Linked DNA regions of Homo sapiens. The protein of the gene in region 1 interacts with the protein of each later gene in a pairwise test. Each region holds a gene or a part of one and is shown in the gene's direction. Other genes may lie near its edges.

The links.
Region 2: the proteins of CASP6 (region 1) and PPARA interact in binary tests that used the Homo sapiens proteins (3 or more experiments, as listed by UniProt).
Region 3: the proteins of CASP6 (region 1) and PLEKHG4 interact in binary tests that used the Homo sapiens proteins (3 or more experiments, as listed by UniProt).
Region 4: the proteins of CASP6 (region 1) and LYNX1 interact in binary tests that used the Homo sapiens proteins (3 or more experiments, as listed by UniProt).

The regions. Positions count from the first base shown.
Region 1 is NC_000004.12:109,693,443-109,700,464, reverse strand, and holds part of CASP6 (caspase-6 isoform alpha precursor), read left to right. Parts: intron 1-2,122; coding exon 2,123-2,165; intron 2,166-2,696; coding exon 2,697-2,843; intron 2,844-3,978; coding exon 3,979-4,055; intron 4,056-5,764; coding exon 5,765-5,940; intron 5,941-7,022.
Region 2 is NC_000022.11:46,237,518-46,244,269, forward strand, and holds the end of PPARA (peroxisome proliferator-activated receptor alpha), read left to right. Parts: 3' UTR 1-6,238; downstream 6,239-6,752. UniProt on the Homo sapiens protein: Ligand-activated transcription factor. Key regulator of lipid metabolism. Activated by the endogenous ligand 1-palmitoyl-2-oleoyl-sn-glycerol-3-phosphocholine (16:0/18:1-GPC). Activated by oleylethanolamide, a naturally occurring lipid that regulates satiety.
Region 3 is NC_000016.10:67,275,142-67,282,536, forward strand, and holds the start of PLEKHG4 (puratrophin-1), read left to right. Parts: upstream 1-4,390; 5' UTR 4,391-4,485; exon of another isoform or gene 4,486-4,734; 5' UTR 4,735-4,903; coding exon 4,904-5,402; exon of another isoform or gene 5,403-5,569; coding exon 5,570-5,665; intron 5,666-5,740; coding exon 5,741-5,864; intron 5,865-5,949; coding exon 5,950-6,043; intron 6,044-6,425; coding exon 6,426-6,503; intron 6,504-6,582; coding exon 6,583-6,696; intron 6,697-6,867; coding exon 6,868-6,966; intron 6,967-7,059; coding exon 7,060-7,208; intron 7,209-7,361; coding exon 7,362-7,395. UniProt on the Homo sapiens protein: Possible role in intracellular signaling and cytoskeleton dynamics at the Golgi.
Region 4 is NC_000008.11:142,774,187-142,781,603, reverse strand, and holds the start of LYNX1 (ly-6/neurotoxin-like protein 1 precursor), read left to right. Parts: upstream 1-4,401; 5' UTR 4,402-4,498; intron 4,499-4,581; exon of another isoform or gene 4,582-4,690; intron 4,691-5,072; exon of another isoform or gene 5,073-5,160; intron 5,161-5,482; 5' UTR 5,483-5,646; coding exon 5,647-5,698; intron 5,699-5,909; coding exon 5,910-6,011; intron 6,012-6,240; coding exon 6,241-6,437; 3' UTR 6,438-7,417. Other genes in the region: LYNX1-SLURP2 protein precursor, read left to right, coding at 5,647-5,698, 5,910-6,011. UniProt on the Homo sapiens protein: Acts in different tissues through interaction to nicotinic acetylcholine receptors (nAChRs).

The DNA.
Region 1 (7,022 bases):
CTATGTCCTAGAACTCTTGGGCTCAAGAGATCCTCCTGCCTTGGCCTTCCAGGTAACCGGGACTATAGGCTTGCCACTATGCCCGGCCAGAACGTCATTTTAAACAGATTTTCTTGAGCAGCTACTTAATACTAGTTAGCCATTCCTAAACCTGTAGGTCTTGACTAATGTGAGGGCATATTTGAGACAACCCAAACTCACATCTTAAGTTATTAATTTTAATGTGTCAGCTAACAACTGGGAAGCTACTTCTTTGGCAATATGAGAAACAAGAGTTTTAAAGACCCAAGCAAGAATACATCTCCAGTGTTTTCACCCTGAGGGATATGAGTTAGTTTGCTGAGCAGCCATTTGGCACAGCTTCCATGAGTTAGGTTGTGAGCCGCCTTCGGCTCAGCAGTCAGTATGGAGCAGAAGCCACAGGAGGTGAGCCGCTGGCCTGCTGCCACCGAGGAGGACACTGAGACATGAGTGCTTTCCAAGTTGTGCAGAATTTTGGCATGTGAGGAGGATGGTTGTGACATATGGATTTAATTTTCTTGAAGTTATTGTTTCTTTATACTCTAATTGGTTAAAAGATAAGCAGGTGAGGTTATCAAAAGGCAGTAGATTCCGACAGCTTTTGAAAATGGGAAGAGTGAAATCCCTGTGCTGTCTTCATAGAGCAGTGTGTGGAGTAGGAAGTACCTCGTTACTGTGCTCACCTAGGGCAAAGGTCGGATTAAACAGCTTTCTCATCTGCCATGCAGCGGGGAGGACCAGTTGGAGAGGTTGCTTTTGGCTCTCACACCTTAGTGTAAAAATCACTTTGTGAAAAATGCAGCTGTCACCTCCTTCCTCCAAGATTCTGATTCTGCCTCAGTTAGGATCCAGGAATCTGCATTTTAACATGCACACCAGGAATTCTGATGCCCAAGGTTGAGCAAAACTGACTTAGGGCGTACAGACAGAGGATGCCTTAGTGTGGGGTCTTAGTTGGGTCTCATTGCTTGGGGCAGTTCCAGGAGGAATAGGCTAAAAGGGACTTGAACTGAATTCCCCACCTTGTATTTTTTTTGAGGAGAAGTGAGGTTAGATCAATCAGGTGATGGGGGCTAGTAATGGGGAGATCTCTAAGGAGAGGGGAACCAACCCTTTTGGCTAGGAGATGATGGGTAAGAGTCCATGCTTTAGGGTCATTCTTCCTCAACTGAAGGGTGCATCTTGCTATACTGCTAATATTTCAGTTTATTCATTGCTGTCTCCCCTCTAAGCTGTTGAGCTATCAGGTAAAAACAGATGCATGAGTGGATGGGGCCTTTATTGTAGAAGATGCCACACTTTGCACTGTCCAGTGTAGAAGCCACTGGCCAATTCATTTAAATTGACAATAAAATCGAGTTCCTCAGTTGCATTAGCTGCATTTAAATGCTCAGTAGACACATGTGGCCAGTGGCTACCTTATGAGACAGTGCAAATACGGAACAATTCCACCATCACAGACACTTCCATGACATAGCACTGCTCTAGAGAGTAGAGAGGAATTCAGTGGAAGGCTGTCCAGGGAGTAGGGAGTCCAGTTGAGAATGGAGAGCAGAGGGCTCCCCTTACAGGGTTGGAAATGCAGATGTGTCATGCAGGAGATCCAAGGTCCAAGTCTTTGCCCTTGCCCTTCCCTTCCTCCACCCAAACTTCTACCTCTTCCAGGCTTACACCACTGCTAATCCAGCATTAACCACAAACTATATTTCAGTTTTCCTGTAGGACTTAATTCTTTTTCAGAAAATGTGCAAAAACATTTTCTGCATAACAAAGCAACTTCATATTTCAACTCCGTAATCACAGAACTGTTACTCTAGGCATATTTTGCAGTGAATGCATTTGTGTAATATTTTCTCCATTTCTGTTTATAAGATTGTTATTTTGCAGGTCAAGTTGGGGGTGAGAAAGCATAGAGCTGTTATAGTTTGTTTATTAGTAAGCAGTTTCCCTTCATTTCCTTTTCTTCACATACTTTGGCTTTTAAACTAACCAAAACAGAAGGGTCTTAAGAGTTTGGGAGTCAGAAGGGGGATGGGAGTTCCTACTATATTTTACTGCCATAAGTAAAAAATAATTAACAAAAATCAACTTTTTTTAATAGGTGGGGAAGAAAACATGACAGAAACAGATGCCTTCTATAAAAGGTAAAGCTGTGCTCTTTTCTAATAAAGGTCTCTTCCTTTGATGGTCATGATCAGCCTACAGAAATCAAAGCAAGAATGGGTCCTGGGAGCTAGGAAGTAAAACTGAGTAGGCCAAGTTTTAGCCTTTGGGGAGCTCATTTGTAGATAGGCAGGTTGTGCTGCCCCTGGTTGTCGAGGGACCCGGAGTGATGTTCAGAATGCATATTAATTGGCATGGCATGAGCCTAGAGCTAGAACTTGGTTCTGAGCCTCGTGGTTATTCCTGGTTGCTGGATCCTGGGGGCCAGGGGAAAGACATCAAGGCAGAGGGTTAGGGATGTGTCAGGATGGCACATGGCTGCTCTTTACCAATTGGCAGAGAGATATTTCAGGACTTTCCTTATTAGCATGGCCTTTCCTGGAGCACACCCATGGAACATCAGCCTGGCAAGGAGGAAGCTCAGATCTCTATCTACATGTTGACCTAGAACTTGGAGGGGCTCATTATTTAATATGACTTGAAGTGATTGTTTTTCAACTTTTCATTAACAGAGAAATGTTTGATCCGGCAGAAAAGTACAAAATGGACCACAGGAGGAGAGGAATTGCTTTAATCTTCAATCATGAGAGGTTCTTTTGGCACTTAACACTGCCAGAAAGGCGGGGCACCTGCGCAGATAGAGACAATCTTACCCGCAGGTAGTAGTTTTATCTACCTATCAAGATGAGGCAGTTAAGTGATAAAATTACTTTTGGCCAGGTGTGGTGGTTCATGCTGGTAATCCCAGCACTTTGGGAAGCCAAGGTGGGAGGATCACTTAAGGCAAGGAGTTTGAGACAAGTCTGGGCAACAGAGTGAGACCTGGTCTCTACAAAAAATAAAAATCAATTAGCTGGGCATGGTGGCGGTAGTCCCAGCTACTCTGGAGGCTGAAGGGGGAGGATTGCTTGATCCCAGGAGTTCAAGGCTGCACGGAGCTGTGATCATGCCACTGCACTCCAGGCTGGGCAACAGAGTGAGACCTTGTCTCTAAAATAAAAAATAAAATAATTTTTTTCCATGTTTCCAAATGAAAAGTTAAAAAAAATTAAAAATTAAAAAAATTCCAGACTTCTAGATGTAGGGAAAAGTTACTTATCATAACTTGTCAACACTAATGAGGTAACAACAGATCAAGAGTGTTGGAGCATGGGCCTTGCTTTGATGCAGCCTCCCTTAAGAACTTGCCTGAGTTGGCCGGGCATGGTGGCTCACTCCTGTAATCCCGGCACTTTGGGAGGCTGAGGCGGGTGGATCATAAGGTCAGGAGATTGAGACCATCCTGGCTAACATGGTGAAACCCTGTCTCTCCTAAAAAATACAAAAAATTAGCCGGGCGTGGTGGTGGGAGCCTGTAGTCCCAGCTACTCGGGAGGCTGAGGCAGGAGAATGGCATGAAGCCAGGAGGCGGAGCTTGCAGTGAGCCAAGATCAAGCCACTGCACTCCAGCCTGGGCGACAGAGTGAGCCTCTGTCTCAAAAAAAAAAAAAAAAAAAAAACTTGCCTGAGTTATTTTCCTTACTCTGTTCTATTAAATGTTGACAGGCTTTTGCATTTGTACTAACATTTGCATAGTAGACAACAACACTCTAAATTGAATCGGCTGTCATTATGATTAAATCCTTTCCGACCATGGTGAATGAAGGGAAAACCACCATTGTTATATTTCATTTCTTTTCTCCTAAAGAAAGCAAATTTATGTGTCGTTAAAATGTGTATAGATTCTTCCAAAGTAAGGGTATTTGACAACTTTGAAAAGTTTATAGGCTAACATTTCATTTAATATACCACTAGGTTTTCAGATCTAGGATTTGAAGTGAAATGCTTTAATGATCTTAAAGCAGAAGAACTACTGCTCAAAATTCATGAGGGTAGGTAGTTTTGCTATCATATAGTTCATCTTCCTCTAATGAAACCGAGTCCTTTATCCTATCTGTAAAGACAGGTACAAGTAATTACTTGTGTGACAAAAAAAGTATTAATTTAGCACAGGTTACAGGTTTTGGGTATGCTGCTGTGTTTCCGTTACCCAGCACATTTAGAGACCCTTGCAAATAATTATGCCTCTAAAGTTTATATTTAGCATACCACTAGTTACAGTCTCTTGTAGAAATGAATGAAATGACCCCTTCAATTGGCAGTAAAAGCCTAAAATGCAAGTACTACAGGTGCTGGGCAGTCAACAGGCTCATTTTCTCATTGACTCCTTTCATGCCTCATTTTCTCACTGGTTTCCAAATAGTGTTGGTTTACATACATTACCTCCTTTAATTCTCACAGCGTCAATAGGGGGTAGGTATTCTAATTATAACAACCTATATTATAATCATCGCTGCATGCCAACCATTATATTTGCATAATTACTTTAAACTTTCTTCAGAGCTCTTCTTTAAACTGCACATCATTCTAACTTTGGCTGCTTTTACCAGCTTTTCTACTTTGCTCAGAAGCTTTGGAGGACATCAGTCTCATGGCACCGCACCTGGCTTTGAGTACTCTTTTGGAAGCTCTAAGTGCTATAATCTTTTTTTTTTTTTTTTGAGATGGAGTCTCGCTGTCCGCCCCAGGCTGGAGTGCAGTGGTGTGATCTCAGCTCACTGCAGCCTCCACCTCCTGGGTTCAAGCAATTCTCCTGCCTCAGCTTCCCAGGTAGCTCGCCCCCATGCCCAGCTAATTTTTGTATTTTTAGTAGAGATGGGGTTTCACCGTGTTGGCCAGGCTGGTCTTGAACACTGGCCTCAAGTGATCCACCTGCCTCGGCCTCCCAAAATGCTGGGATTCCAGGCGTGAGCCACTGCGCCTGGCCCTAAGTGCTGTATTCCTATAGTGAAAGTGCAGCAATGCGTGGGGAGCTGTTGAGCAGCAGTTTCTGGGTCTTTCCACTCTGCTCTAAGGTCTCTGCTGATTCAAGGAAATTTTTAGTTTATTGCCAAAATAACTTGGATCTTAAGTGAGATTCCCTATCGTAATCCCTTTATGTTTTCCACATCATTCTGTGTTTTAGAAAGGCTAATGAAATTTGGTCAAACTCTATTACTCTGAACTTTAATAAATTTGGATTTTTTTAAAAAAATAAGATACAGTACGGTATATTGTTTGATTAAAGACTAAGTTGTTTCATCACAGATATTTTACACTTATTAAAGAGTAGGCCGGGCATGGTGGCTCATGCCTGTAATCCCAGCACTTTGGGAGGCTGAGGCGAGGTGGATCACCTGAGGTCAGGAGTTCGAGACTAGCCTGGCTACATGGCAAAACCCCGTCTCTACTAAAAATACAAAAATTAGCTGGATATGGTTTCAAATCTGTAATCCCAGCTACTTGGGAGGCTGAGGCAGGAGAATCGCTTGAACCCGGGAGGTGGAGGTTGCAGTGAGCCAAGATCGCGCCACTGCACTCCAGCCCTGGGCACCAAGAGTGAAACTCTGTCTCAAAAAAACAAAAAAGACAAAACCACAAATTTTCCTCCTCCCCAATCATGTGGATGTAACTTTATTCTTGTGTTAATAAACTGAATTTTTATGTGTAGATAACAAGCATCATATTTTCATTTCTATATTCTCTTTTGGGTCCTTTATAGTGTCAACTGTTAGCCACGCAGATGCCGATTGCTTTGTGTGTGTCTTCCTGAGCCATGGCGAAGGCAATCACATTTATGCATATGATGCTAAAATCGAAATTCAGACATTAACTGGCTTGTTCAAAGGAGACAAGTGTCACAGCCTGGTTGGAAAACCCAAGATATTTATCATTCAGGTAAGACTGAGTACATTATCATCTTAATTATAAAGTCTGTCATTCTGAACATGTGATAAAGGTCTAAAAGCCAGTTTTGAAAGTAACTTTCTCCAGTAATTGGACAGGCCGTTTTTGAATTCTGGCCAATCATAGTTGCACTTTGAGCTGTTAGTAATAATTCTTTGACACTCTCATTGTCTATATTACAAAATAACAGCATTTGGATTGAGATTTGAAGTGACTCACAAAGTAACCAATGTGCTACTCCCTGTCCGAGCCTGATACCAAGGAGAGCCATTGGAAAGCGTACCTGCTGATTGAAGAGTGCCGCACAAGGCAACCTCATCAGACTAGGTTTGCTTCTTTGGGAGGTGGAGAGCATATAAACCAGTGGAAAGAATGGAAAAATAAAGCCTTCTAGTCTTATCCTGTCTCATCCCTTTCACATTGCCCCTTAAACCAAGATTGTTTCCCCGCTGCCAAATTGGTTTTAGGGATAAAAGTATTTTTTACAGGCGTGATGGCTCACACCTGTAATCCCAGCACTTTGGGAGGCCGAGGCAGGCAGATCACCTGAGGAGTTCAAGACCAGCCTGGCAAACATGGTGAAACCCTGTCTCTACTAAAAATACAAAAATTAGCTGGGCATGGTGGCAGGTGCCTGTAATCCCAGCCATTCGGGAAGCTGAGGCATGAGAATTGCTTGAACCTGGGAGGCAGAGGCTGTAGTTAGCCGAGAGCATACCACTGCACTCCAGCCTGGGCGTCAGAGCGAGACTCTGTCTAAAAAAAAAAAAAAATTTTTTTTTTTGCATGAATATTACTTGGCACATCATTAACGATTTTTTTTTTTTTTTTGAGATGGAGTCTCGCTCTGTCCCCCAGGCTGGAGTGCAATGGTGCAATCTCGGCTCACTGCAACCTCCGCCCCCAGGTTCAATTATTCTCCCACTTCAGCCTCCCGAGTAGCTGGGATTACAGGCACCTGCCATCATGGCTGGCTAATTTTTGTATTTTCATAGAGATGGGGTTTCACCATGTTGGCTAGTGTGGTCTTGAACTCCTGACCTCAGGTGATCTGCCCGCCTTGGCCTCCCAGA
Region 2 (6,752 bases), on another chromosome or scaffold:
AACCCAGGAGGTCGAGGCTGCAGTGAGCTGTGATCTCACCACTGCATTCCAGCCTGGGTGACAGAGTTAGATTCCACCCTCTCCCACCCCGGCAAAAAAAAAAAAAAAAGATGCAATCAAAGGGGCTGTTGGCCAGCAATGGCAGCAGCAGCGGCGGGCAGTCTGCCCAAGTGTCTTAGGAACCAAAAGCAAATAAAAGTGTTTCCATATATGCCACCAGCCAAGTGGCCATCCTAATTCAGAAAGAAGCTAGCCTTTGAGTGTCTGTCATGGTGCATCCGTTTCAGTATTATTTCCTAAAATGAGAAGCCCCTGTGTCAACAAGATCCAGGGGCTGGAGCCCAATGCCAAGCCTGTGTTGTCCCCAGCGACCCTGCAGCTGCTCGCTCTGATGTACCCTGTGCCATTCAAGGAGATGTGGTCCAGGAAAGTGAGCCTCATGGTTTTCAGAGAAGTCATTGTTCTGTTTACATTTTCATAAAACCTGTTTAAAATAGCTCCCCGTCTCAGGCTTTCAGCAGTAACAGTGAGCTGACTGGCAAGTTCGATGTTAGCTCCCGGGACACTCAGCAGCGATGGTGAGCATTTTGGTTTCCTTAAGGCCCAGCAAGACTTCCAGGGACATCTCTGGTGAAGCCAGAATGGAGACACCCGTGACCTCAGGCTGAAAGTCACTCGACATTGGTCTCTTGTGTTGATAGGGAAGGAAATCAGGCATTCCTATTTCTTTAAATAACAAAACCACTAATTGCCACTCAATGCTGGAATATTTTGGGTCACCTAATCATAGATTTCTCAGGGCATCAATACTCAAATATAGGCTGATTATGCCCCAGTTCAAATGGGAACTATTAACAGAGTGCATTTCTTGCTTGCTGGGTTTCAACAGACATCAGCCAAAAGAACAAAAGAGATGTCAGGACAGATTCCAGGAGTGTCGGAGCACATGTGTGGCACCCGCTCCCTCTGGCAGCGAATGTAGGAAGTCGCCAAATTTACCCACTCTTCAACAAGTCATTGTTTAAACACGGTTTTTCATTTTCTCAACTTTTAATAGCAAAAAGTGCCAAAGTCCTCAGAGACCTAACAGCCTTGGTCTACCGTGCTGACCAGGGTGAAGGCACGGCGAGGGACTCCTCCCAGACGTGCCTCTTGTGTGCCAGCTGGCTGTGGCTCGGGAGCAGACGCAGGCCTCTCCATTGTCCAGGGGAGCCTGGCGGCGCATCCCTCCTCTCCCACCTCCTGGCACTTCCAGCTGGGTGTCCCACATGTTGGATTCCGTCCCCACCACACTTCCAGAGACCGGAGAACTGTGCAGGGCCTAAGGCCGTTTGGATGAATTGTCAAAACAAGATGCTTCCAGTTACAGCGGCAGGAGCGGGACTGGGAGCACGGGCTGACGGCTGCTGGTGCCTTTCTTCCCACCTCGCTTGCCTGTTTCCGCTTGACCCTTCCTCCAGCTCCGATGAGAAGAGTATAAAGCATCTTCCTAACGGGTGTGTTTGCTATACGAACATAATGGACGTGAAGTGGGGCAGAAACCCAGAACTCAGCATTCAAGGATGCCCAGGAGAGCTGTCCCTGTTTTAAAGAGCTGTGTTTTGTTTTGTTTCGCATTTAGAGAGCAGACAAGGCACCCTTCTGCTGCGCTGATACGTTTCTTACACTGGGCCATTTTAGACCCCCAGGGAAACAGCCTTCCTGGAGCGTTGTCTGGAGGTTCCAGGGACAGGGCAGCCTCCCAGAGCCGAGCAAGAGCTCAAGGTACAAATGAGAGATTTGCTATACCGTGAGAAGTCAACAACTTAGCCACCACTTCCCCGCAATGGACCATGTAACAAATACCTCAGCAGGCCCTGCAAAAGGCCATGCTAGAGCTGAGGCGCACAGCCTGTGGCCTCTGTAGTTAGGGCAGGTGGGATGGAGACTCCTTGAGTGCACACACCTGAGCCTGCCCACACACAGGGGAGCAGCATCTCGTATGACGTCTGGAAGGAACTTCGGTTGTGTAAAGGGAGCCTTGAAGATACGTGCAAAAGGTGCTACCCCAATTTGGTGAAACTGACATTGGGCACGTCTTGGGCTTAGGAGAAGCGGCCGATGGTCCCGGCCTGCAGTGACAAACCCCCCTCCCCGCACCGCCCCCAGCACCCCCTCTCCTCTTCACCTCTTCCTGCTGGCCACGAGGAAGCCACTTCCTCAGAGAGACCCTACCAGATGCGGATGGAAACAGATGCACCAAAGCAAGCCCTGATGAAACCGCGACTTCCTAAGGTCTGTCTCCTCTGAACTTGCACCTGGGCCTCTCTGTGTTTGGTTCCAAGCACTTCCCACCTCAAACTCCCATTTTCAAACCACTGTATCTCTGCGCACATCTGCTACTTACCAGCCGCATACATGATGGAGGGTTTTTTGGTCCTGATCCAGTGGCCACACCTGTCTTTGAAATGTCTCACTGAACTCCAGTTTTAAAATAGATTCATTGCTTCAACACAGCAAGCCCAATGCACCCAGCTAAGACTGGCTTGACCGACAGCCTGGCCTTTGGTGGGGGGCTTCCTGGGGCCTGGGGAAAGCTGGCCACCTTCAACAGCTGGTACCTCTTCAACAGTGTGGCCTTTCAAAATGCAGATGCCACCAGGAGAACATGCCCACAGCTCACCACCTATGGATGCCATGGCTCTGGGCAGCTTTCAAAGCAGGTTCCTGTGGTCTCCTCAGCTGTTTGAGGGGGTAACAGCAAATCAGCCTCCATTTTAAAATGAAAACACCAGCCTCCAGATGTAGGGCCTGCTGGGTGTTGCTAGCCGCTGGTCCCCAGGCACGGTGCACTTTCTCCACCTCCTGCAGCCTCCCTGTTGTTTCTAGACTCTTGCACCTGGTGAGTGCAAGGATAGGTGACCCAGGGGCCTGCAGCCTTGTCCTCAGCTCCCATCTCCTGGACTGCCAGCCTCACCCTCTGCAGTTAGCATGGTTGGCCTGATGCAGGGATCCCGAGGGATTACTTTTTAGACCTTCTTTCACATTCAGAAAAGTAGTATAGATTCAGGAGAGGCAAGAAAATTATGCTGTCCATAGAAGTCACCCATGAAGACTGATGCCACCACCTGAAGGCTCATGATTGTTAAAAATGTCCACGGGAACCTCTCGTCCACAGGAGGTTTGTCTCAACACTTCCCATTTTTACGGCATTGGCATTGCCAAGCATGGGGAAGTATCTGCTCTTCTCATGTTAAAAGTGGCCCAGCTTTTCTTAACTCAGTCCAAGCTGACTTGTTTAGCTGCACTGGAATTTCTTACCAACCAAATATTTGCATCGAGCAAAGGGGGCTGTGTGCACCTCCCTAATGGCAGCGATGATGGCTGCTGTCATTCAAGCCCATCTTCAGACGTCACAGTCTGGAAGTGAAATGTCCACAAACATCTGTGGCAGAAAAGGCTATACGGACCACCCAGTTGTGCTGCAGCTTTACAGAGCAAGGAAGGGTTGTGGCAAATAAATGATTAACCTGCCTCGACTGTGCTGAGGGCAACAAAGGCCATCTCACCAAAGGATTATTCGATGCCATTAAATCATCCCGTGACCTTCCTGCTTCCGAGTCCATGGCCTTTGCCCAGGGCATGTACTCCCCTGAGAGGCCTTCTGCCTAGAAAGATCTATGACTGGGTTCCAAAGTTGAGGCCTAGGTTTTTGCTGGGATTTAGATATTTTCAGGCACCATTTTGACAGCATTCAGGAAAACGGTTATTGACCCCATAGACTAGGGTAAGAATAAAGGCAATAAATTTGGTCTGACTCAGAATATAGGAGATCCATATATTTCTCTGGAAACCACAGTGTACACTAAAATGTGAAATTGAAGGTTTTGTTAAAAAGAAAAAGATAATGAGCTTCATGCTTTGTTTAATTACATAATGATTTCCATTACGCTATTTCTGTGAAATGCAGCAGGTTCTTAAACGTTATTTCAGTGGCATGGGCTGGAAGCTTATCACAAAAAGCCATGTGTGTGGCCTTATCAGAACAGAAAGAGACAGGCTGGTGCCCAAGGCTGCTGCCTGCTCCACCTTTTGCCAGCTCTGGACATCTGAGGACGTCCCGGCAGATCTGGAATGGGGCCCTCAACTGACCATTTGCTTCTCAGAATTTCAGTTTGAGACATGAGAGGTATAATCAGTTACTTTTCTCCCCCCAGAGAAACCCTTTTGTGAGGGGAGAGGAGCTATGGTATGTGGTTCAGCTGAAACACATACAACTGCATCCTTTTGGAGTCCTTTGCCAACAAAAACAGACCAACAGACCAGATGGTGTCCATGTTCAATATCATGTCTTGATGGACGCAGCTGATGACCTCAAATACTTGAGTGGTCTCATGGCTGTTAGATGGATTATTTGAAAAAAAAAAAAAAAAAAGAGAGAAAAAATAATTGATTTTTACATCAGAGATAGCAAACTAAGACCTGGGGAGGGGGGTCAGCTTTTATTTTATTTTATTTTTTTTAAGTTTGCTAGTTGGGTCAAATGTGAGGAGGAGGGAGTCTACCTGCCACCTCTTCTCTTGCCCCTCTTCTGCCCACACATCCAGCATCCAAAATCCATTCATTTAATGAATTGATAAAGTGCCGTGCAAACTGGTGCACAAACAGGCCCCCAGTCCACGCAGCCTGGCTCCTAGGAAAAGTGGTGACCGGGCGTGGGGGGGCATGCCGCAGCCCTGGGACACAGTCGGGCACCTTCCCCGGACCCCCAGGCCTTGGCTGTGCCTCAAGTCAGAGAGGGTCAGCCTTCAGGCCCCGGAGACGAGTGACTGGCCGATCATTTCACAATAAAATCACTCACTTTTGGCAACTTCACTTTTTTTAAGGCACAGTCAGTTCCTTTTCTCATGTACCTCACAAAAGATGAAGACCATGTAGTACTCTTTTTGGTAAAGTTACAGTGTTCATGTTAAATATCACTTTTTTCTACATTGTGTGGTAAAAAGAACTACGTTAATAGCTATATCTTAAATACTGTGATTTGACTTTTTGAAAAATATCCTAATACAAATATTTTACTAACTTACAATCACTCATTTAATAAGAAACATTTGGATTCTTTTGAAATCAGTGTTAATTGACTCATATTCTTAAAAGCCTGGCTCTTGACCCTATTGGAAACACAAAGGAAGCTGAAATCAAACATCTAAAATACACTGCGTACACGTGTGCGTGCACACACACACACACACACACACACACACAGCTCTTCATTTCTCCTGAGCCATGCAGAATTTACTTTCAATGTGGAAATCTGTTCCCTTTACCACACTGTATATGCACAGAGCACAAGAGAGGCTATCTCTAGTCACTTCCACCAGCGAGGCCTTAGACTCCGTATTAGAGGCCACCGATTTCATACAACAGTGTTTCGCTAAAGACCCTTCACTATTCTTGTTTAGTAAATAGCTGTCTGCTCTTCAGGGAACTGTTACCTATGGGTTATTACCAAAGAACGCTGGCAATTGGAAATGTCCTGATGGAAATTCTTTGCACGTGCCGGTTCTCTGGCATCCTCCAGGTGGCCCAACCCAAAGCAGAAAGCAGAAACCACAGACCCCGTGAGTCTCCCCATACCTTGTTTCCAATAACTTGGCAAAACTTCTTGGTGCATATTGGTTACACCCTCTGGGATTCATAATGCCATTAGGCTAAAACCCTAAGAGAGAGGGTTGACAGAAACACACGCGAGAATGAGGCAGATCCCAGAGCAAGGACTGGGCCCAGACTCTCCACATGTGCTCTACTAGTGAGTGCCTTATACTCTCAGTATTTTGGGGCTTACAGCTTCTTATTTGTGCTAAAAAGGTGCAGTTCCAAAGTAGGAACTGCCACACAGGCCCCAGCATCCTCTCTCCAACTTCATACCTCTCTCCTGGTGGGGGGAGCGGGCATCCAGGACCTCCGGAATCAAGGATGTGCAGAGAAGAGCGAAAGTAATTTTTCTAGTCACATGAACTGATTGGTTCCAGGCAATTAGAAAATGGCTATAAAATAACCTTAATTTTAAAAAAAAATCTTGGGTCTTCGTTTTCCTATTAGGAGACTGAACTGACCACATGTATTGATTTATATCCTGAATATATGGGAACTTCTGTGTTTGGGATGTCCTACTGTAAGACTGATGAATGTACAGAGTTAATTTCAGGGTACAGTTTTGCCTTAATGGTTTTAAAAAATAAACTATTTTTTAAAATTTTTTGGTGAGTTTTGAGTGATGCTGCGAGATGGACTGTTTGGTCTAAAAGAACCAAGTCCCCAGCTGTGGGGTCCGCCCTCCGCCAGAACAGTCCCTGCGCCCCTCATGGAGGCTGTCTCCACCTGCACAGTCCCTTTTGTGTCCTTCAACATACAGAATGGATCAAGGACAATCTGGCTCCGGAATACGACATCCTTTCGTCTGAAGTCACATACAACGGGAACTTTTAAAGCAGTGAGCATCTTAAAGTCCATCAGTGCACAAGTCAGTAAAAACTCTTTATTCATTCCTTCATGTGACAGTTGGCCTTGAGTAGTTACAAAGACAGAGCAGTTCCTGCCTCTCAGAATTCTAAGCAGACATTCCAGAGCTCACAGATCAGTGTCCCACCAGCTGCTACCCTGGAAGCTTCAGGGAGATGGGGAGCCTGGAGTAGGGGGGTGCTGCAGGAACCCCCGGCAGGCAGTGGGGCCAGGCTTCACAGGCACCCAGGGCTGAGTGCGAGATGGCAGGG
Region 3 (7,395 bases), on another chromosome or scaffold:
CCTTTAGACACCAGGGGAATTGGATTTGGGACTGCTCTTATCTAGGGATTTCTTTTTTTTTTTTTTTCTTTTTTTTGAGATGGAGTTTCGCTCTTGTTGCCCAGGCTGGAGTGCAATGGTGCAATCTCGGCTCACTGCAACCGCTGCCTTCTGGGTTCAAGCTATTCTCCTGATTCTCCCACCTCAGCCTTCCTGAGTAGCTGAGATATATTTGAGATATAAGTCACATACCATAAAAATTCACCCATTTTAAGTGTACAGTTCAGTGTTTTGAATATACCCATAGGGTTGTGCAGCCCTTACCACAATCTAAGTTTAGAACATTTTCATCATCCCCCAAAAAACCCTGTACTCATTAGCAGTCAGTCCTCATCCCTGGCCCTCCTCAGCCCTAGGTAATAACTAACCTACTTTCTGGCTGTCTGGATCTGAAGGACTTTTGACACACTTGGAAGGTTATACTTTTAGCCAACTTACCTTTACTTTTTCTGCATTATGCGCAGGGAAGGTGTGATGAGAAGGAAGAGTGACTTGGGCTTTGCCCTTAGGTTGTTTACAGGCCACAGTGATAAGGCCTCGTAGTTAACTAGTCGTCAACAGTTTATTTTTTTAATTTTTATTTTTTACTCTTTTTGAGACAGTCTCAGTCAGGTCACTCAGGCTGGAGTGCAATGGTATGATCTTGGCTCATAACCTCTGCCTCCCAGGTTCAAGCAATTCTCCTGCTTCAGCCTCCCAAGTAGTTGGAATTACAGGTGCCCACCACCATGCCCGGCTAATTTTTTGTATTTTTAGTAGAGACAGGGTTTTGCTATGTTGGCCAGGCTGGTCTCGAACTTCTGACCTCAGGTGATCCACCCGCCTCGGCCTCCCAAAGTGCTGGGATTACAGGCATGAGCCACTGCGCCCGGCCGTAGTCAACAGTTTAGAGTCAACAGCCCCAGCTGTCACTCACAAGTGTCATTCTGGGTGTGTTACATGCTCTCTCTGAGCCTCAGTGTCCTCATCTCTCAAATGAGATAATCATACTCACTTCATAAGGCTGCTGTCAGGATTAAATGACAAAATTTAATGGGAAGAATCTACCCAGGGCCTGGCTCAAGGTAAGGGATCATAAATGTCATTATTTGTCGGGCCGGGTGCGGTGGCTCATGGTTGTAATCCCAGCACTTTGGTAGGCCAAGGCGGGTGGATCCCTTGAGGTCAGGAGTTTGAGATCAGCCTGGCCAACATGCTGAAACTCCATCTCTACTGAAAATACAAAAACTAGCTGGGCATGGTGGTGCATGCCTGTAATCCCAGCTACTCTGGAGGCTGAGGCAGGAGAATCACTTGAGCCCAGGAGATGGAGGTTGCAGTGGTGGGGGCAGATGAACATGGTGGGTTTGACAGGGAGGCAGGCAGGTGACTTGGATGCAGGAGAGCAAGTGCGTCAAGCGCTCATCCATGGGTCCTTGCCATGTGACTGGGCAGGGTGGCCTGAGCTGAGAGAACTTGGCTGGGGTAGTCTTCGTGAAGGAGATGCTGCACCCAGGCCTCAAATGAGGAAGGATTTTGATTAGGGGAGATGGGCATGGGCCTTCAGGAAGAGGAGCCAGTGTGAGACTAGACTAGTAATCAGATTTGTTTTCCAGGCCAGTCTGGGAGGTAGATGGGAAGGCTGTGATGCCTCTAAGTGGCCTTGACTGTCATACCAAGGAGTTTGGAGTTTATTTAGGCCAAAGGCAAGAGAGGTCTGGAAGTTCTGGGGTATTTGTTGCCCTCAGTATTTGGGGTAGTACTGAAGAGGGGTGTGCAAGGTGAATGACTGTGGGTCTGTTGTCACTAGACCCAGTGAGGCCCAGAGCCCTCCCCTCCTTTTTATTTATTTATTTATTTTTGAGACAGAGTCTCGCTTTGTCACCCAGGCTGGAGTGCAGTGGTGTGATCTTGCCTCACTGGAACCCCTGCTTTCCAGGTTCATGTGATTCTCTTGCCTCAGCCTCTCAAGTAGCTGGGATTACAGGCATGTGCCACCACATCTGGCTAGTTTTTGTATTTTTAGTAGAGATGGGGTTTTGCCATGTTGGCCAAGCTAGTCTGGAACTCCCGACCTCAGGTGATCTGCCTGACTTGGCCACCCAAAGTGCTGGGATTTTGTGGCATAAGCCACAGTGCCCGGCCCATTTTATTTTTGATTGAGTCATGTTGGCAAGAAATGGGAGGCTGAGGGAGAGTTGGGGAAGGGCCAGGGGAGGGAGGCCCATTCCCATTTTATGATCTCAGTGGAAAAGGCTGCTGTGAGTTGATTCTGCTGCCAGGAGAGCCACAGAGATGGGCCCCATGAGTCACTGCTCAGTCCTGCAAGCTCAGCCCACAAAGCCTGCTGTGGTCAGCCACCCCTGGCTGGCTCCAGGCCCAGCTCCCCAATATTCCCCACTAGGCCTCAGTGTGTCCTCATTTCTATCTGTACCTTTGCCATCCTGGGCCATGCAACCTGTAGCTCTCGGCCTCTTCTGTCTCCTTTCAGGCTGAGTCTCTGAATCTGTCTCCATTTGTGACTCTGGTTTCCATGGGATACATAGATGTGGAGCCTCAGGAGGGCAGGGGTAGTGTGATCAGTGTCAGGCGCCCCAAAGCATTTATTCTGTGCCAGGCCCTGTGCTGGATGCTGAAAGTACGGAAGTGGATAACATACAGTCTCTGTTTCCATGAAGCCTACAATGCACATTCTCTGTGGAGTGGAGAAACCAGGGCCCAGCCCTGCCTCTATCTCAGTATGGCTGTACCTCCCCTGAATCTGCCTGCTGTGCCCAGGGTGCCAGGTCAGCTATAGCCTGTGGCTTGAGGCTCTTCTTTGCCTCTGGCATTCACAGGGGTATGTGTGCCCGCCAGCAGGTCCCCCCCGGCTCTTAGGGCTCCTGGGGGACTTGGCTGGTGGGTGCTGGTGGGCAGCAGAAGGGGAGGGAGGGAGCAGAAGGCAGTGACTCAGTGGGGGTGGCCCTGGGACAGAACTGGGGAGGAAGCCAAGGTTGGATGATGCTTCCTGAAGCCAGGAGGGTGGGAAGAGAGGTCTGGCTGGGAGTTAGGGATGGAGCAGGACAACTCCAAGGCTCCCCTCTGGCAGCCAGACCTGCTCATGAAGAAGGCTCCTCGGTAGCTGCCTGAAAGTCTGGACTCTGGGGGCTGGGCTGGGCTGGGTGGGGAGATTGCTGTTGGTCCCACTGTGCCTGTTGTAATCCCCAGGTTCATGAAAGAGGTGCCTGCCTTAGAGCCAGGGAAGCCGTTGCACCCGGTGCCCCCTCTCCCCAGGGACCATGGGCCTGGGCACACTGTGGGGCTCAGGGTCTTCTCCTGGTCGCAGAGCTGACCTTCCCACAATCTTCCCACAAATTCTGGGGAGTGTCGGGCCAGGCCCACATGCCCTAAAGGGACCTCAAATCGCACAGCTACCCACTTGGGTAGCTTTCATCAGTTCAGGATTCCCTGACTGCGGGTGAAATGAGGGGGCAGGGCACCAACACAGCCCGAGTGCTGGCAGCGGGTGAACGTATAACACAGGGAGTCTTCCCCAGTCCTCACGGCAACCCCAGGAGAAAAATGACTTTCCATTTTTACAGGTGAGGAGGGTGAGGCTCAAAGAGCAGAGTTCCTGGAGCGCCCCCAGCAGGTAAGTGGAGAAGCCAGGCCTGGGCTGGGGGCTCTGGCTCCAGAACCCCACCTCAGCACCAGCCTCCTGCACCGGACTTTGTGGAGAAGGGGGTAAGGGGGTGCCAGGGATGGCAAAGGGGTAGAGGATCTGGTGGACTCTGGCAGGCCTGGGTCAGCTCCACCCATTGGTCTCACTCCCACCCGGATGGCAGCCCCATCCCACGTGGGATCATGCGACCTGTCTCTGGGTGCCCGCGGCGAGGCAGCACCCCGCTTCCCTACACAGAAGGCCTTCCCCTCCCGTCGGCTCATTCAGCCGCGGAAGCCCCTGGGAGACCCCGCCCCGCCCCGTCCCGCGGTGCCCCCCGCGCACTCACCCTCGCTCACCCACGCGGCCTTCCTGGCGGGAGAGCGCTTCCGGCGTCCTCGCCAGGCCCGGGGAGTGGGCACGGTGGAGCTGCCGACCGTTGGTCGCTGCCCCAACCCACGCACTGCGACGCCGCGGGTGAGGCGCGCGGTCTGCGGGGCCCGGGGGTGCGGCGGGGCGGGGCTGGCGGGCTGTCCGGGCCCACGGAGAGGACGGCGGCGGGCGGGGGTTGCTGCAGGGCCCGCACCTTGTCTTCCGCGCCGGCAGGGCTGTGCCCCGTCGAGACCTGCTCGGGCTGTGGCTCCGTCCTCCGGCCTCCAGGGGGCGGCGCGGCGCTGCGCGGCGCCCCGGCGGCACTGCCCTCCCTTCCCAGCGGCCAGGAGGCGGTGTCCCGTGACGCCGCGCGGCCGCGCTGTAGTGGCCGTCGAGGCCGCCGTCTGTTCGAAGGCTGTCCGACTTCACGGTTCCCCGCGGCTCGGCCCGGGGGCGTGAGTGTCGCCAGCGGGCGACGGGGGGGCGCGCGGTAGGCCCTGCAACAAGGCCAGGGCCTGGGGGGGCCGGCAGGAGAGCGAACCCGAGGCATCGTGGTGCCATGGCGGGGCCGCCCCCACGGGCATGGGCCTGCAGAGCGTGGCCGTGAGGACGCTGAGGGTGGGCGCGCACGGAGCAGAGGCCCACGGGCGTCCGACGGGGGACCTGGACAGAGGGACACCCTTAACGTTATTCCCTCTTCCCAGGCCTGAATTGCAGTTCCTGTGCCCTGGCACTAAGACTGGCACCTCCTGCGGCCCATGCCCTTCGCCTGCATTGCCCACTGAGTCCCACTCGACTGTCTTCAGCGCGGTTCACACTGAGACCCAGCCCTCTCCCGCTGGCCCCGAGCAGGCCCACCTTTAGGAGGGCGTGATGGAAAGGCCCCTGGAGAATGGGGATGAGTCCCCAGACTCTCAGGGCCATGCCACCGACTGGAGATTTGCTGTGTGCAGTTTCAGGGATGCCTGGGAAGAGGAGGAACCTGCTTCCCAGATGCACGTTAAGGACCCAGGTCCTCCAAGACCACCAGCCGGGGCCACCCAGGATGAGGAGCTACAGGGCAGCCCCTTGTCCAGGAAATTCCAGTTACCCCCAGCTGCAGATGAGTCGGGGGATGCCCAGAGGGGCACAGTAGAAAGCTCCTCAGTCCTGTCAGAAGGGCCAGGCCCCTCTGGAGTGGAGAGTCTCCTATGCCCCATGTCCTCCCACCTCAGCTTGGCACAGGGTGAGAGTGACACCCCAGGGGTAGGGTTGGTAGGGGACCCAGGTCCAAGCAGGGCGATGCCATCTGGCTTGAGCCCTGGGGCATTGGACAGCGACCCTGTGGGCCTTGGAGACCCTTTATCAGAAATATCAAAGCTGCTGGAGGCAGGTAAGGAAGGCTGGGCTAGGGAAGTCTGGGAAGGGAATGGGGATGCCTGGAGAGATGAGTGTCAAGACTTTGGAGGTCTCTGACCCTACTCAGGCTGAAGCCCGGGTCCAAGTAGGGGTCTCTGGATAGGTGGTCCAAGGCAGACCCAAGTCATTTCCCTTCCCAAGCCCCCAGTGGATCCGGCCTCCCTAAGCCTGCTGACTGCCTCCTGGCCCAAGACCTCTGTTGGGAGCTGCTGGCCAGTGGTATGGCCACCTTGCCAGGTAGCCAGGCGGGCCTAGAGGCGGTGGAGGTGGAGTGGCCCAATACGGCAGGAGTTCACTGCTTCCTCCCCACAGGGACTCGGGATGTCCAAGGCCGGGCAGTGCTGCTTCTGTGTGCCCACAGCCCAGCCTGGCTTCAGTCTGAGTGCAGCAGCCAGGAACTCATCCGCCTCCTGCTGTACCTGCGAAGCATCCCCAGGTTTGAGGGAGGGGGTTGGGAGACTGAGCCTGAGCCAGCTGTGAGGACTGGGAGTCAGGTACTGAACTGAAGCTCACCCCTTTAGGCCCGAAGTACAGGCACTGGGACTGACAGTGCTAGTTGATGCCCGAATTTGTGCTCCAAGTTCTTCCCTCTTCTCTGGGCTCAGCCAACTACAAGTGAGTACAGGATTGTAGCTCCCCTCATTCCTTTTCTTTTCTTTTTTTTTTTTTTTGAGACGGAGTCTTGCCTTTGTCGCCCAGGCTGGAGTGCAGTGGCGCAATCTTGGCTCACTGCAAACTCTATCTCCCCGATTCAAGTGATCCTCCTGCCTCAGCCTCCCAATTAGCTGAGATTACAGGCACCTGCCACCATGCCCAGCTGATTTTTGTATTTTTTAGTAGAGAGGGGGTTTCACCATGTGTTGCCCAGGCTGATCTCGAACTCCTGAACTCAGGTGATCCTCCCGCCTCGCCTCCCAGAGTGCCGCAATTACAGGCGTGAGCCACCATGCCCTTTTCTGTAGAGTTGGGGATAGTGCTGAGCTCAGGTTCCTTGCAGGAAGCAGCCCCAGGGGCCGTGTACCAGGTGCTGCTAGTGGGAAGCACGCTGCTGAAGGAAGTGCCTTCCGGGCTGCAGGTACTAAGCCCAGTTGGCTAGGGGTAGAGGTGGGGTGCCTCCCCCCAGGCCTGGGTCACAACACCTTCTTCTCCTGTAGCTGGAGCAGTTGCCTTCTCAGAGCCTGCTGACCCACATCCCAACGGCGGGGCTGCCCACTTCGCTAGGAGGAGGCCTGCCTTACTGCCACCAGGCCTGGCTGGATTTCCGAAGGGTCAGTACACTGGGTGGGGCATGGGGGCAGTCATATAGGCAACTTGGGATCATGGAGGAGCCTCTCTGGGGCTGGCTTGAACCAGACAAAGCTGGCTGCAGTGGCCTGGAACCCAGGAAGCCCAGGACCAACACTGCATGCTGCTCCGGTCATGCCTGCCCCTGCTTACAGCGGCTGGAAGCTCTACTACAGAACTGCCAGGCAGCTTGTGCCCTGCTCCAGGGGGCCATCGAAAGTGTGAAGGCTGTGCCCCAGCCCATGGAGCCTGGGGTGAGTGTCCCCTCCCAGTCCCTCCATGAATGCTCCCTGTCTCCCTCCTTCTCTCCCATGGCCACCTCCACAGCTTATTGCCCTCAATCACAGGAGGTCGGTCAGCTGCTACAGCAGACAGAGGTCCTGATGCAGCAGGTGCTAGACTCGCCATGGCTGGCATGGCTACAATGCCAGGGGGGCCGGGAGCTGACATGGCTGAAGCAAGAGGTCCCAGAGGTGACCCTGAGCCCAGACTACAGGTGAGTGCAAGCCCGGCCCCCAGATCTTGCCCCAGCCCACCATATTCTATGCCAGGACTCATCTGGCTAGCTCAGAACCTGGTAGGACTGTGGTGCCAGGACAGGGTGGAGTGGTGCAAGGCAGGGGGTCTAAGATGGTATACCCTACACCAGGACGGCAATGGACAAGGCTGACGAGCTATATGAC
Region 4 (7,417 bases), on another chromosome or scaffold:
GGCTGACTCTCCTGGCCCATCACCGGATGCAATTTTCTCTATGCCTTAAAAATGGAAATGCTAAAAGCAGTCAAAGCACAATGTCCAGACAGAGGGCAGCTGTCAGGGAGACTGTGCAAAAGCAACTGACCAGGTCCTCTGAAAAGGGATCCTCCCTCCACCTGCTCGGAACTTCTGCTCTCCTCACCGTCCAGTCGGGCCTGAGCTCCCACCCGGCCCCCTCTGGCCAGCTGCGCTGTCCCCACCTACAAGGTTGCAGGCCCTGTGTGGGGCTGATGACGCCTGACAGCATCTTGGCTGAAAGGCCAGGTGGGAGAAAGAAAGGAGCATTATTCAGTCAGATCAGGGGGGCCCAAGAGCCTCCCTTAACGCCCAGTCTCGACAGCCAGATCCCACGGAGGGCTGGAGGGGCAGCCCCAGCCGCCCACTCCACTGGCCAGCCCCCAACTCAGAGGCAGCTAGCTTTGGTTTGCAAGAGGTCCTTTCTCTGGTCCTGCCATGGACAAGCCGGACTGGGGAGGGTTGTTGAGGTCCTCCTCCTGGAGGGGCATTCTCAAACATTGCTCTCATTGATTTTTCTCTATCTTCTTTTTCTACCTCACTTTTTTTTTTTTTTTTTTTTGCTTTTATTTTTGCTATTTTCTTCATTTTGCTTACCTTGGGTTTGATTTGCTCTTTTTGTTCTGGTTTCCGAGGGTGAAAGTTTAGGTGGTTTTTTTTGGAGAACTTCTTTCTCTTCCAAAAGAAGTTTTAGCTCTTTTTTTTCTAAAAGAAGCATTAGTGCAAAATTTCCCTCCAGGGCCCACTTCAGCTGCATCCTTTGACTTTGATGAATTGTGTTTGCATTTTCATTCAGTTGGAAATATTTTCTGATTTCCTTTTTGGTTTCTCCTTTGACCTATAAGTTGTTTAGAAATATGTTATTACTCAGTTTCTAAATATTTGATGATCTTTTAGATATATTTCTGTTATTGATTTCTAATTTAGCTCCATTGTAGTCCAAGCAAATAATCTGCATGATTTTAATCCGTATAAATTTACTGAGATTTGTTCTATGGCCCAGAATACAGTCTGCCTTGGAGGACATTATTGGTAAATAAAGGTGTGTTCCCCTTCTGTGAGGTGGAGTGTCCTACAAACATCAAGTTGGTCATGTTGACTGGTAATGTGATCCACGTCTTCATCCTTACAGACTTTTTGTCTATTTTTTATCAGTTCTCGAAAGAGGAGTGTTGAAATCTCTGTTATTGTGGATTTTCTTTTTCTCCTTTCAGTTCTATCAGATGTTGTTTGTTTTGCTTTGTGTATTTTGAAGCTTAATTGTTAGGTGCATACATATTTAGAACTGCTGAGTCCTCTTCATGAACTGATCAATTTATCATTTGGTAATGTCCCTCTTTTTAAATTTTTTTTCTTTCTTTCTAGTACAGATAGTGTTTTGCTGTTTTGCCCTGGCTGGTCTCAAACTCCTGGCCTCAAGCAATCCTCCCACCTCAGCCTCCCAAAGTGCTGGGATTGCAGATGAGAGCCACTACACCTGGCCAGTAATGCTCCTCTTTATTTCTGATTATAGTCTTTGCTTTAAACCTACTTTGATATTGACGTAGTCATGTCTGTGTTCTTTTAATTGGTGTTAGCATAGTATATCTCTCTCCATCTTTTTACTTTTATCTTATTTGTGTTTTTACATGTCTGGTGAGTTTCCCACTGACAGCATATACTTGGCTGTTTCTATTTTTATCCAATCTGACAACCTCTGTTTTTAATTGAGATGTTTTTGTTTGTTTTTGAGGCAGAGTCTCACTCACTCTGTCGCTCAGGCTGGAGTGCAGTGGCACCATCTCAGCTTACTGCAACCTCTGCCTCCCAGGTTCAAGCAATTCTCCTGCCTCAGCCTCCCAAGTAGCTGGGATTACAGGCACCCACCGCCATGCCCAGCTAATTTTTGTATTTTTTAGTAGAGAGGGAGTTTCACCATGTTGGCCAGGCTGGTCTGGAACTCCTGACTTCAAGTGATCCACCTTCCTCAGCCTTTCAAAGTGTTGGGATTACAGGTTAGGATTACAGGTGTGAGCCACCGTGCTCAGCCTGATTGAAGTGTTTAGATGACATAGTGTCATTATTGCTGTGGCTGGGTTTAAATATATGTCATCTTGCTATTTGTTTTCTATTTGTCTCATTGTTTTTTCCTTTCTCCTCTTCTGCAGTCTCTGTAACATGTGCTTTTATAAATAAATAATTCTGTATCATCACTTTTGTTGATTTATTAACTACAGTGCTTTGACTTTTGCTTTTTTCTTTGTCTTTTTTTAGTGACACTTTAGCGTCTTAGCATACACCTTTGACTTACTAGTCTACCTCCAAGAAATAGTAGGCCACTTCACATAGAGTAGAATAAATCTACAACAGTGAACTTCCATTGTCCCTCTCCTGGTCTATTTGTATTACTATTTTTTTTTAAATTTATTTGACACAGCGTCTTGCTCTATCACCCAGGCTTCAGTGCAGTAGCGTGATCACAGCTCACTGCAACCTCCACCTCCTGGGTTCAAGTGATTCTCCCACCTCAGCCTCCTGGGTGCAACCTCAGGTGTGCACCACCACACCCAGCTAATTTTTTGGTATTTTTTTTTTTTTAGAGATGAGGTCTCTCTACGTTGCCCAGCCAAGCCTGGTCTTGAACTCCTGGGCTCAAGCGATCCACTCGCCTCAGCCTCCCAAAGTGCTGGGATTACAGGCGTGAGCCGCGGTGCCCAGCCTGCACTACTATTATCATACAATTTACTTCTACATTTGCTATAAATTCCTTAATACATTGTTATTATTTTTGCTTTAGGTAATCAACTATCTTTTAACTTGATTCAAAAATAAGAAAAAAATTACCTTCTATTTCCTATTTCTGGTGTCATTTATTCCTTTGTGTAGATCCGTATTTCTGCCTGAAGAACTTCCTTTAACATAAAGGTCCCCAACCCCTGGGTCACAGACCGGTTAGGAACCACGCCACACAGCAGGAGGCGAGCGCTGGCGGGCGGGCAAGGGAAGTTTCATCCGTATTAATTCATCGTGGTCTGAGGCTGAAGACCGCGACATACTCTGGTTCTGACCTATGCGTTCCTTCCACGCCCCTTATCCCACCAGAGTGTGAGCTCCATGGGGTGGGAATATTCTGGAACGTCTGCTGGTTTTATTCTTTGCCTTCTCCCCAACTAGGACCTGGCACAGGAGGGTGCGCATTACCTCTCGGCAAACAGAACAACTAACTGGCCTAGTTTGCTGGGGACCGAAGGATTTCCTGGAACCGGAGCCCGCTTGCCCAGCAGGCATGGTGTATTCTGTACCTCAGGCCCGCAAAAATGTTTTAAAGAAAAAAATGAGCTTTAGGGTAGAAGAAAAGGTTTTATTTTTCTTTCTCACATTGGAAAAAATGAAAACTTTCGGACCCATGAAATTTTATTACATTTTGCCAAAAACAGAACCAATAACATAAGTATTCAAAGTTATGTAAAGATAATTATTTAATATGAACATTATGATGGTGAGAGGGACCACGGAGCAAGGGGCTGCCTTGCAGGCCTGCCTTCCAGCTTTGCTACAGGGACCAGAAGCGGGAGCTGAGCGCAGGGGAGGCAGGCGGAGGCCATGGGCAGCGAGGCGGGTGCGCCAAAGGGCGCCAGTTCCGGAGCTGCTGGGCCTGGGCTGCAGGAGGGCGGAGCTGGGGCCGCAAGGCTGGTGCCGGCCGACAAACGACGCGGCGCGGGCGAGTGGGCGGAGGCGGCTGCGGGGAAGGCTGGGCTGCCGCGGGACGCGGTGAAGATAGCCTGCGGAGTGTCCGGGCTGAACACGTGAGTCTGAGGGTCGCCAGGGAATCACTGCGTGGCTGCCTCTGTGTCGGAGATCCAGATGCCTGGACTGGCCTCGGGGTCCCAGCGCTTGCCCGGCGAGCCGGCGGTCCGGGGACGGGTCCGGGCCGAGGCCTGCGGTGAACTCGGCTCGGCGGGTGCCCAGGAGGCGGGTCCGGGGCGGGGCCTGCGGTGAACTCGGCTCGGCGGGTGCCCAGGAGGCGGGTCCGGGGCGGGGCCTGCGGTGAACTCGGCTCGGCGGGTGCCCAGGAGGCGGGTCCGGGGCGGGGCCTGCGGTGAACTCGGCTCGGCGGGTGCCCAGGAGGCGGGGCAGGGGCGGGGCCTGCAGTGAGCGCGGCTTGGTGAGTAGCCCAGGAGGCGGGTCCGGGGCGGGGCCTGCGGTGAGCTCGGCTCGGGGGGTTGCTCAGGAGGTGGGGCCGGGGCAGGCCTGGGGCGGGGCCTGCGGTGAGCTCGCGCTGGGCGGGCTGTTCCGGGGGCGGGACTGGGCTGGGCCTGCGGTGAGCATCAGGCGATGCGGCACGGGTGCTGCGGGACACACAGACACGCCTACGATTAGACTCAGGCAGGCACCTACCGGCGAGCGGCCGCGGGTGACTCCCAGGCGCGGCGGTACCTCACGGTGGTGAAGGTCACAGGTGAGGTCACCCTGATAGTCCCGCTCGCGCCGAGAGCCCTCCCCTCGACCTGGGACCGCAGTGTTTGGGGCGGGGCTCTCCGTGAGGGGGTTGGGAAGCTCGAAGCCGCAGGCCTGACTCTGGCCTTTGGCATCCTGGGGTTGGCCTGGGCAAATGTGTCGTGAGAGACGGATTTGTTGTTCTCGGGAAGGCGTAAGTTTAATTTAGTCCTCCAGGACGGAGACCGAGGGCCGAGTATCCCGGCAGGGGTAGGAGAGCCGTAATCCAACCCCCACCTCCCCACTGTAAACCTCTTTCCAGAGAGGGCATTCCCGTTCCAAACACCAGACCCAGCCGGGGAAATGCTTCTTCTTGTCTGGCCCAAGTGCCCTCCTGGGAGGGGCTCAAAATGCATTCCCCCCAAGCTGGGCACAGCTCATCCCTGCTGGGGAGCTTCTGCAGTGGCCGAGGACTCAGACAACCCTAACCAGGGCTCTGGAGGTCTTCTGGAAGAAGGAACCCCAAGTAGGGACACCCCAGGAGCAGAGAGGAGGGGAACAGCGAGAAGAGACCCAGCTTTTGGGCCCAGTCCTGCCATGGCCAGCCATCCGGCCCCCAGGGCCCTGCTTGGGATGGGGCTGCAGACCACCTCCCATGGGACCTCTGCACCAACCATCCCCTGGGTAAAATCCTTGTTTAGGCCTGGTATTTAAGGCCCCTCTGCCCATCCCTACTCCTTCTCTAGCACTGCCCCTCATCCTCCCCCCATCTCTCCTCCATCCAGCGCTACAGGCTGTTTTGAGCTTTTGCAGGTGCTGGTCTCTGATTGAAATGTCCTGATCTCTTCTCCCTTCTTGTCCCATCCCAAGTGTCTCCTCCTCCAGGAAACCTTCCCTGACACCCACTGAGTTAGGTGGCCCCTCTGCCCACCATCATCCCTGCCCAGGCCCCCATGGGTCCTTCAGGCCCAGTACTGACCACCTGTCTTTGCCACCTGCTGTGCAGGGTTGCAGCACTCCCAGTAGACCAGGAGCTCCGGGAGGCAGGGCCGGCCCCACGTCCTCTGCGCACCACCCTGAGTTGGATCCTCTGTGCGCCACCCCTGAGTTGGATCCAGGGCTAGCTGCTGTTGACCTCCCCACTCCCACGCTGCCCTCCTGCCTGCAGCCATGACGCCCCTGCTCACCCTGATCCTGGTGGTCCTCATGGGCTTACCTCTGGGTAAGATGGACAAAGGACAGAGGGATGGGCAGACCCACTTTGAGGGCAGATGGGCTGACAGTAGGGAAGGAGGCTAGAATTCCCAGCGACAACCCCTCCTTCTAGCCCCCTGCCCCGGGGAAGGTGACGGGCTGGGGGCCTGATGGGCTGGAGGAGGGGCCTCTCATGTTCTGTGACCCCCGTTCCCTTCCCGCCCATCTGCCAACCCCAGCCCAGGCCTTGGACTGCCACGTGTGTGCCTACAACGGAGACAACTGCTTCAACCCCATGCGCTGCCCGGCTATGGTTGCCTACTGCATGACCACGCGCACCTGTGAGTCTGGGGGCCCTGCGTGGCCCTGCCTGGGGAGCACGAAGGGGAGGTTCTGCCCTGCCCCTGAGCATGCGGGGGTCCTGAGGAAGGAGGCTCTCCTGTTCCCGGATCCTGTCTGGGAGCTCCAGGCTGAGGGGCCCTGCCCTGATGGCTGTGGATGCTGGGGTGGGGCCAGCTGGGTCTCCTGCCCCTCTTAGCGGAGCTGGCTCACCGCCCCGCCCCTCTGCAGACTACACCCCCACCAGGATGAAGGTCAGTAAGTCCTGCGTGCCCCGCTGCTTCGAGACTGTGTATGATGGCTACTCCAAGCACGCGTCCACCACCTCCTGCTGCCAGTACGACCTCTGCAACGGCACCGGCCTTGCCACCCCGGCCACCCTGGCCCTGGCCCCCATCCTCCTGGCCACCCTCTGGGGTCTCCTCTAAAGCCCCCGAGGCAGACCCACTCAAGAACAAAGCTCTCGAGACACACTGCTACACCCTCGCACCCAGCTCACCCTGCCTCACCCTCCACACTCCCTGCGACCTCCTCAGCCATGCCCAGGGTCAGGACTGTGGGCAAGAAGACACCCGACCTCCCCCAACCACCACACGACCTCACTTCGAGGCCTTGACCTTTCGATGCTGTGTGGGATCCCAAAAGTGTCCGGCTTTGATGGGCTGATCAGCCCCTCGCCTGTCCAGGGCTATTTATGGGGAGGGGCCCAGTCAGGCAGGGAGCACTGAGCAGATGGGAGCTGTGGCCAAGCCCACCTTCTGGGAAGCCCTAGGAGAGGCCCCTGCCTCAGTCTGCCCCTGGTGTGCTGGGGCAGGGGGAAGACAAGGAATGCCCGCAGGTGGGGTGGTGGGGAGACTCTTAGGAGGAAAGGCTCCTCCAGGCCTAGTCACGCTTCCTACTGAGGCCAGGAGCTGCCAGGACCGGTACGGGATCAGGGCTGTGGGAGGAGGGCCTTTGGCACCGGCCCCTGTGCTAGGAAGTCTGCCAGGCCCGAGTTGGAGCCACCCCCTGCAGGGGAGGGGGCGGCTCTGCCTCAGCAGGCCCCAGGGCCCCCGAAGTCACAGAAGCTTTTTCGGGTCCAGCAAGGGGTGTGTGTCCTCTCAGTCAAACCCCTTGACGTTTCCCACCCCCTCACGGGGAGGGCACCAGGCCTGAAGCTGGCAGGAGCTAGGGCCATGCTATATTTGGTGGGTCCTGGACGCTGACCCGGCCAGCGCTATTCTGGGCAGGGAGGGAAAGGGGCAGAGCAGGTGGTCCCCCGAGTCCTGGTCCCCAACCACAGCAGGACCCAGCCGAGCAAGGCAAAAGACGCAGGACTGGGGGATGCGCGCACAGGCTGGGGGTTGGGAGCAGCCTGGGGCCGGCGCGGGCCTGGGCGTGGGAAGGCGGAGCATGCCACCCTCTCGTG